3 separate regions of the Homo sapiens genome follow, and regions 1 and 3 are each linked to region 2. The links come from fine-mapping of genetic effects on gene expression. A gene starts in region 2. Each other region holds a variant in brackets. All regions are shown on one strand. Distances are from middle to middle. Region 1 has its middle 15 kb from the start of TUBA1A. Region 2 holds the start of LMBR1L (limb development membrane protein 1 like). Region 3 holds the start of SPATS2 (spermatogenesis associated serine rich 2).

What was found.
Region 1: its variant is fine-mapped to the expression of LMBR1L in whole blood (INTERVAL, PIP 0.94).
Region 3: its variant is fine-mapped to the expression of LMBR1L in whole blood (INTERVAL, PIP 0.98).

The regions. Positions count from the first base shown.
Region 1 is chr12:49,172,243-49,175,001 of GRCh38, forward strand. No RefSeq gene overlaps it. Among named protein-coding and RNA genes, the nearest start is that of TUBA1A, 15 kb to the right of the region's middle. RefSeq lists a silencer at 1,182-1,387. The variant G/A (reference allele first, on the strand shown) is at 1,423.
Region 2 is chr12:49,109,795-49,112,553 of GRCh38, forward strand. It overlaps LMBR1L (limb development membrane protein 1 like), which reads right to left and starts at 1,053. Exons shown (of 17, transcript NM_018113.4): 1 at 690-1,053. The coding sequence starts at 761. RefSeq lists an enhancer at 222-761 and a silencer at 1,619-1,799.
Region 3 is chr12:49,364,840-49,367,598 of GRCh38, forward strand. SPATS2 (spermatogenesis associated serine rich 2) reads left to right here and starts at 2,623. Exons shown (of 14, transcript NM_023071.4): 1 at 2,623-2,748. RefSeq lists an enhancer at 1,703-1,962 and silencers at 2,253-2,732, 2,753-2,759. The variant A/T (reference allele first, on the strand shown) is at 1,625.

The DNA.
Region 1 (2,759 bases), 62 kb after region 2:
CTAGGCATATACACATATATAATTTTATGTAAATAGAGATACTATATATTGTAGAAAAACAAGACTTGGCATTATGTTTGGTTATGAATCTTTTAGAGGCACTTCTTTTATTTATTTATAATTTGCAAGCCTGAGAAGAGAAAACTAGATCCAGGATCTGTGATTTTTCTAAGAATTACAGAATCTATGTAATCATATGTACTTATTGGTTAAATTCTCATTATTATTATTATTGTTATTATTATTTTTTGAGACAGAGTTTCACTCTTGTTGCCCAGGCTGGAGTGCAATGGCGCAGTCTTGGCTTATTGCAACCTCCGCCTCCCGGGTTCCAGTGATTCTCCTGCCTCAGACTCCTGAGTAGCTGGGATTACAGGCCTGTGCTACCACGCCTGGCTAATTTTTGTAATTTTAGTAGAGACAGGGTTTCACTATGTTGGCCAGACTGGTCTCTAACTCCTGACCTCAGGTGATCCACCTGCCTCGGCCTCCCAAAGTGCTGAGATTATAGGCGTAAGCCACCGTACCCGGCCATGCGTGATTCACTTCTTATTAGCTACAGCAAAAGTGATGAGATGTCACTTCCGATATTACATTACAAAAAGACTGTGACTTTCATCTTGGCAGCTCTCTCTTGCTGTCTTGCTCACTTGTCCTGAGGGAAGCCATTTGCTGTCTGCTACTCTTTGGAGAGGCCCTTGCGGCAAGGAATTGTGGGAGGTTTCTGACCAACAGGCAAAAAGACCTTAAATATCTGGCCTTCAATATCCTGGACACCCAACACCCAAAGGTGCATTGAGCTGTTGTTTCCTTATATAATCCCTAACATGGGAGCCAGTCAGTCTGCCTACCAGGCCTCTGCCTAGGTCCCTGATGTTTTCCCCTTGTGTTATTTCTTGGATACCTGGCCTGATCTCTTTAAGCTCCTTTCTCTAGGGTTAGCTCCTCTTCGTCTTATTACATTGGACTTTCTTTTAATTTTTATTTTATTCATTTAATTTTTTTTTTGAGACGGATTTTTGTTCTGTTGTCCAGGCTGGAGTGCAGTGGTGCGATCTTGGCTTACTGCAACCTCCGCCTCCCAGGTTCAAGCGATTCTCCTGCCTCAGTCTCCTGAGTAGCTGGGACTACAGGCATGTGCCACAACGCCCAGCTGATATTTTGTATTTTTAGTAGAGACAGGGTTTCACCATGTTAGCCAGGATGGTATCTATCTCCTGACCTTGTGATCTGCCCGCCTTGGCCTCCCAAAGTGCTAGGATTACAGGCGTAAGCCACCCTGCCTGGCCTCATTTAATTTTTTTTAAAGATAGGGTCTCCTCTCTATCACCCAAGATGAAGTGCAATGATGTGATCATGGCTCACTGCAGCCTTGACCACCTAGGCTCAAGTGATCTTCCTGCCTCAGCCTCCTGAGTAGCT[G/A]GGACTACAGACATTGGCCACCACACTCAGCTGATTTATTTTTTGTAGAGACAGGGTCTCGCCATGTTGCCCAGGCTTGTCTCAAACTCCTGGCCCAAGTGATACTCCTACCTCAGCCTTCCAAAATGCTGGGATTACAAGTGTGAGCCACTGAGCCCAACTTTATACTGGACCTTTTGATTCATTACTTCTGATGCTGGATTGGAAATGGTGGTATGTTACTGTCATTCTCATTTTCTTTTCTTTTCTTTTTTTCTTTTTTTTTTTTTTTGAGACAGAGTCTTGCTCTGTTGCCCAGGCTGGAATACAGTGGCCAATCATAGCTCACTGCACCTTGATCTCCCAGGCTCAAGAGATCTTCCTGTCTCAGCTTCCTGAGTGTCTGGGACTCCAGGCACTGCCACTGCACACAGCTAATTAAATTTTTCTTTTTTCTTTTTTCTTTTTTTTAAGAGAGACTGGGTCGTGTTATGTTGTGCAGGCTGGTCTCAAACTCCTGGCCTCAAGCGATACTCCTGCCTCAGCCTCCCAAAATGTTGATATTACAGGCATGTGCTACTGTCCACGGCAAGTGTCATTTTCTTTCTACAGCTGTTTCCTACCTCCTTACTCCATTTACTAGATGGAAGCCTGCCCTATGTCTCAGGGTTTTTTTGTTTTTGTTTTTTGTGGTTTTTTTTGAGACAGGGTCTTGCTCTGTCGTCTAGGCTGGAGTGCAGTGATATGATCACAGCTCACTGCAGCCTTGCACTCCTGAGCTCAAGGGATCCTCCTGCCTTGGCCACCTAAGTAGCTAGGACTACAGGGCTGCGCCACCACGCCCAGCTAATTAAAAAAAATTGTTTTGACTGGGCACATTGGCTCACGCTTGTAATACCAGCACTTTGGGAGGCCAAGGCAGGTGAATCACTTGAGGCCAGGAGTTCAAGACTAGCCTGGCAGACATGGTGAAACCCAGTTTCTACTAAAATAAAATTACAGGCCAGGCTCGGTGGCTTATGCCTCTAATCCCAGCACTTTGGGAGACTAAGGTGGGTGGATCACGAGGTCGAGAGATCGAGACCCTCCTGGCCAACATGCTGAAACACTGTCTCTACTAAAAATACAAAAATTAGCTGGGCATGGTGGCATGCGCCTGTGGTCCCAGCTACTTGGGAGGCTGAGCCAGGAGAATCGCTTGAACCCAGCAGGCGGAGGTTGCTGTGAGTCGAGATCGCACCACTGCACTCTAACCTGGCGACAGAGACTGTCTTAAAAAAACAAAAAACAAAAAAAAAAAGTTTTTTTGTTTTTTTTTTTTTAGAGATAAGGCCTCCCAAAGTGCTGGGATTACAGGC
Region 2 (2,759 bases):
AGGAACAGCAGCCAGGTACCCTCTGAAGCCCTGGGAGGACCACTCACTGGGGAAACCCCGGAATGGCTGAGAGGCTGGGAACCCAGCCTTGCAGGGTTTCAAACAAACACCAATGAGAAAGAAAAAAGACGGGGGAATACTTGGTTGTTCCTCATCTCTACATATTAGGATCCACCCCAGCAAGACTCCTTTCTTCCAAAGCAGATGACCCACCAAGTCCCCAGGTTCCTCCCGTCTGCCATCCCTACACCTCCCCTCTTTTCTGGAATCAAGCTCAGTGTGACGACGTCTCCCCTTCATCCAACGTCAGCTGAGTTTGCCCTCAACCCAGTTTGAGAAGCAAACCCATCCTTCCCCGATTATCAGACTAAGGCAGACTCCGCAGGCTCTCAGACCCCGGAGACCCCCAACAGGAAGACGCGCTGGGTGAGGGGTGGGAGGGAGGGGCAGGGGAGGGGCGTGTGGGGGAGGAACGGAAACGACGGCCTTTGTTTATCGCTCAGGGACCCAGCTGATCCCATCTAGGGGATCGCTAGCCGGGCACCCGCCCTTCTGCCCGGACGGAGGCCTCCGTCGCCCGCCGCTGGCCCAGGCATGGTTTGACGGCACTCTGAGACCAGGTGGGCTCGGACCCCAACCTCCCCGTCTCCCGCAACCCCCGCTTCTCCTCGCCGGGGCCCCGCACTCACAATACACTCGCGGATCCTCTCGTGGAATAGCTGTTCTCGCACGGATAGCACTTCGTAGTCAGGTGCTTCCATACTCTGCTCAGCATGACTGAAGCCGAGGTGCCTCTGGGCCCGGGGAGGACGAGCGGGGAGGAAGCCGCCGCCGCCAAGCACCCAGACCCAGCCTAGGGGCCTTTCCTCGCAGCCTGCGACAGAAACTCGGGGCAGTCTGGGGCTCAGATACAGTCGTCCGGACGCCCCGCCCTTAAAGGGGCAGGCACCACCCGCCTCGTTTTAAAGGGCTCTGTCCTCCCTTTGCTCCCCACTCTTTAAGGTCGGGTCGCGCTCACGTTTCAATGCAAACACCCGCCACTAGGCTCGCTACGAGGAAGCGCCGCTGAGGGTCCATCTTTTTAAGAGATCTAGTGACGACACAAGGGATGGGCGGGTTCCTTCCAGGGGGAGGAACTCATTGGCTCCTGGAGAGCTGTCGTTCATCGCTGGAGGAGCGCTGATAGGCTCGCCCTGTGGAGGAAGGCGGGATCTTTTGGGCCTACCGCTGCCCATACTAATAGAGCAACTGTCTCTCTTATCTGGGAAAAGTGAAGGTTCCTGGATTTTAGTAGCAGCCAACATTTTAGTATGACCTTGGTTAAATGAACCGTTTGAAGCAGGCCAGCCAGGCAGGATGTGAGGGCACCCTAGGGGTTCTGAAATGTACCGCTGCCCAGTAACCGATGTTCTGTAGTAGCATTTTCTGTGTGTTTGTGTTGGGGTGCCCCTCCCCACATCCCCACCCCGCTTTCCCGCTGCCAGGAGTTTTCATTCAATCATTTTTGTGGAAGACCTAGTGTGTGCTAGAACAAATACTGAAAAATACTGGAGAGAGGACTACAGAAATACCTTGCAACTTTGTGAAGAAATGCCCACAAGGATCACTGAAGAGTGGGGCTGAGTCAAACATTAGCTAACCACTTACTATGTGCCATTCACTTTATAGTCGTTATCTCAGCCATGTTACCCAGGCTGATCTCGGACTCCTAGTCTCAAAGTGATGGGCCTCCCAAAGTACTGGGATTACAAGGCGTGACCCACCCAGCCTATTATCTCATTTTTAACGTCACAACAACACTTCAGAGGAAGATGTTGTGATTCAGCTTTTATTTCTTTATTTATTTTTGAGACGGAGTTTCGCTCTTATTGCCCAGGCTGCAGTGCAATGGTGTGATTTCGGCTCACTGCAACCTCCGCCTCCCGGGTTCAAGCGATTCTCCTTCCTCAGCCTCCCAAGTAACTGGGATTACAGGCATGCGCCACCGCGCCCAGCTAATTTTGTATTTTTAGTAAAGACGTGGTTTCTCCATGTTGGTCAGGCTCATCTTGAACTCCCAACCTTAGTTGATCCGCCCGCCTCGGCTTCCCAAAGTGCTGGGATTACAGGCGTGAGCCACCACGTCCGGCCAAGATTTTGTGTGTGTGTGTGTGTGTGTGTGTGTGTGTGTGTGTGTGTGTGTGTGTGTGTGTGTGTGTCTTGGAAGTAGACAGGATTTAGACGAAGGGAGATTTTCTTTTAAGTTATTTATTTTTGAGACAGTCTCACTCTGTCGCCCAGGCTGGTGTGCAGTGGTGCGATCACGACTCACTGTAGCCTCCAACTCCAAGGCTCAAGTGATCTTCCCATCTCAGTCTCTTGAGCAGCTGGGATCACAGGCAGGCACCAGCACACTTAGCTGATTCTGCCATGTTGCTCAGTCTGGTCTTGAACTCCTGGGCCCAAGCTGTCGGCCTGCCTTGACCTCCCAAAGTGCAGGGATTACAGGCGTGAGCCAACAGACCCGACCTCCTCTAAATTCTTAAAGCAACATCCAGCTGCATAGTTCAGTGAGCAGTTAAAAATTGGCCATTAGCCGCGCGCGGTGGCTCACGCCTGCAATCCCAGTACTTTGGGAGGCTGAAGCGGGCGGATCAAGAGGTCAGGAGATCGAGACCATCCTGCCTAACACGGTGAAACCCCATCTCTACTTAAAACATAAAAAATTAGCCGGGCGTGGTGGCAGGTGCCTGTAGTCCCAGCTACTCGGGAGGCTGAGG
Region 3 (2,759 bases), 260 kb after region 2:
CAACAAGCACAGCCACCTCAGCCAGCTAATTTATTTTTTGTAGAGACAGGGTCTCCCTATGTTGCCCAGGCTAATCTCAAACCCCTGGGCTCAAGTGATCCACCTCAGCCTCTCAAAGTTTTGGGATTACAGGCATGAGCCACCGAACCTGGCCAAGAATGGGGACTTTATTTTCCAGCCAAAAAACTTGTATTGGCTTTGCAGCACCAACAGGCCCTATAATGAAGGCATTTCCTGAACTGAGTGACTTTTGGTGAGTGAAACCAGTCTTTGTGGAATAGGACTCAAGGCTCGCATCCCACACCTCATGATGAAGTTCTCCATTTACCAGGGTCATATCCTCCTGTTCCTACTCTGTATGGGAAGGAAGGGGAATTGTGCAAGAATTAGTCACTCATTCCTTTCTGTTCCTAAACCACTTTGTACTTTTCTGCTTCAACACTATGTTATTATAGTCATTTAATAACTTATATTTGTTTTTTGTAGAGATGGGGGACCTTGTTATGTTGCTCAGGCTGGTCTCAAACTCCTGGGCTCAAGCAATCCTCCCACCTTGGCCTCTCAAAGTGTTGGGATTACAGGCATAAGCTGCTGCAACTGGCCTATTTAATAACTTTATCCTCCTTTGGAACTGGATACTCTCCTTGGGGTAATGATTTTTTTTATTCTTCTTTGTAAATGTTCGAATACCTAGAACAATACCCACCATCATTGAGTAGGTGCCAATTTAGTGAATGAAAAGAAAGCAGACATTTGGATAATTTGCTTCTATTTGAATTTTTGAATGAAGATTGAATAGTAAGGAACATATAGTCCAGTGCCGTACCTAGCTGGATGACTTCGTCTTCTGCTTATCTAGATCAGTAAATCATATGGTTGGAGTAGATGAGACATTACTAACCACAGGTCATTGGACTCCAGGCGATTTTTGAGCCCTTACCTCAAGCAACGTTAAAAACCACAAGGATCAGATGGCTTGGCAAAGCTCTACTATACTACTCAGTTACATGTACTGTGATTGCAATAACATACGTGGAAACCAAAATGACATGTGCCTGTGGTGTCTAGCTATACACTGACACACACTCTCCAGCTTGTTGGTGCCTTTTCAGAGCCCCTTTGCTTGGCCTCAAAAGGTAAGATGAGGACAAATTCTAATATATATATATATTTTTTGAGATGGAGGGTGGAGTGCAGTGGTGCAATCCCGGCTCACTGCAACCTCCGACTCCTGGGTTCAGGTTATTCTCCTGCCTCAGCCTCCCGAGTAGCTGAGATTACAGGCGTGTGCCACCACATCCGGCTAATTTTTGTATTTTTTGTAGAGACGGGGTTTCACTATGTTAGCCAGGCTGGTCTCGAACTCCTGACCTCAAGTCATCCGCCCGCCTCGGCCTCTCAGAAGTGCTGGGATTACAGACGTGAGCCACCGCGCCCGGCCCCAGATTCTAATAAATATTTTCAATGCTGACTGTCTAAATCCCTCTGGCCCCTCTTAATAGACCCCTGACCAGTCGACACTGAGGTAAGTGCTTTATGCATGCAGAAAGGGTGCACAAATACTAGTTAGTTCCAGCACCAGGGAGGTTGGGAGTCTGGCGTCGAAGAGAGTATTTAACAGAAA[A/T]GATTCGAAGGGCGGCGGGACCGACCACCGCCGCGTAGAGGGGCTATGCTGACAGCTGGGTAGATCAGAAACCCGACTGACGATCCCGAGGTCATTCTTCCCGCGCCCCCACCGGCCTCTGCGCTCTCTCAGGAGGCAGAGCGACCGCGCGGTCCGGAGGCCCCAGCGTTTCCCGTCGTTGGCGACTCTGAAATTGCCTTTTGGAACAAAACTTGGGTCGGGAAGGAGGCGAAGGGGAAAGCGGTGTGAAGTCCTCGGTACGGAAGAGTGAGCGGCGCTGTACCCGGCGGCCAGAGAAAAAGCTTCCCAACCCGGACATTGAGCAAAAGCCCCGCGCTCGACTCCCCTAGCGGCGCCCGCGTTCGGCCACCTCCGGGGGAGTTTCGGCTCTTTCCGTCAGTTCAGCTCGGGCCCTCCGTTCCCGGCGCGCGCCGGGTCCCTAACCGATGCCGCCGGGTACGAGCTGTGCTGCACGCGGACGCGAGCTCGCGTCCCACCCGTTTTCCCCTTCCATCTACTTTGTCCCCAACCCTCTCCCCGAGTCTCTTCCTTTCCCCGGTAATTCCCAGTCTCCGGTGGCGCGCGAGCCTGCGGACGGTGCGAGACGCGAGGGACCGGGCCCCGAGAAGAGCGGTAACCCGACTGGTCGGAGCCCGCCTCTCGCCGCCCCGCGCCTCTCCCCGATCTTCTCGGTCTCCGGTGCGCGGGCCGTCTCGCCGCTCGAGCCGCGCTCGCGCACCCGTTGGCTGCCACAGCCTCGAGCTTGGCGCGCCGGATTCGCGCCGGCGCGAGTACGCGCCCTGAGCTCTGGCTGGCTGGCTGGCGCGCACGCGCCCGAGAGGGCTCCGGGGCGGGGCGAGCCGCTGCCTGGGCGAGGGTCGGGGTGATCTGCTGGATCTCCGGCAGCATCCTGCAGTCCGGCCCAGGAGAGAAGTGGGGAGGCGGCGGTGGGGGCGGGGCGGCGTCCGGCTCTGAGAGAGCTGGGGGAGGAGCGCGGCGGCGACGGCGGCGGTGGCTCTAGAAGGGGAGGTGGAGGATCTCCTTTCCTCTTCTCAGACCCGGGAGCGTCCGGGACGCGGAGCCCGGAGCTGGGGCGACGAGGCGATTGCGGGGGCCTGGGCTAGGTGAGGCTAAG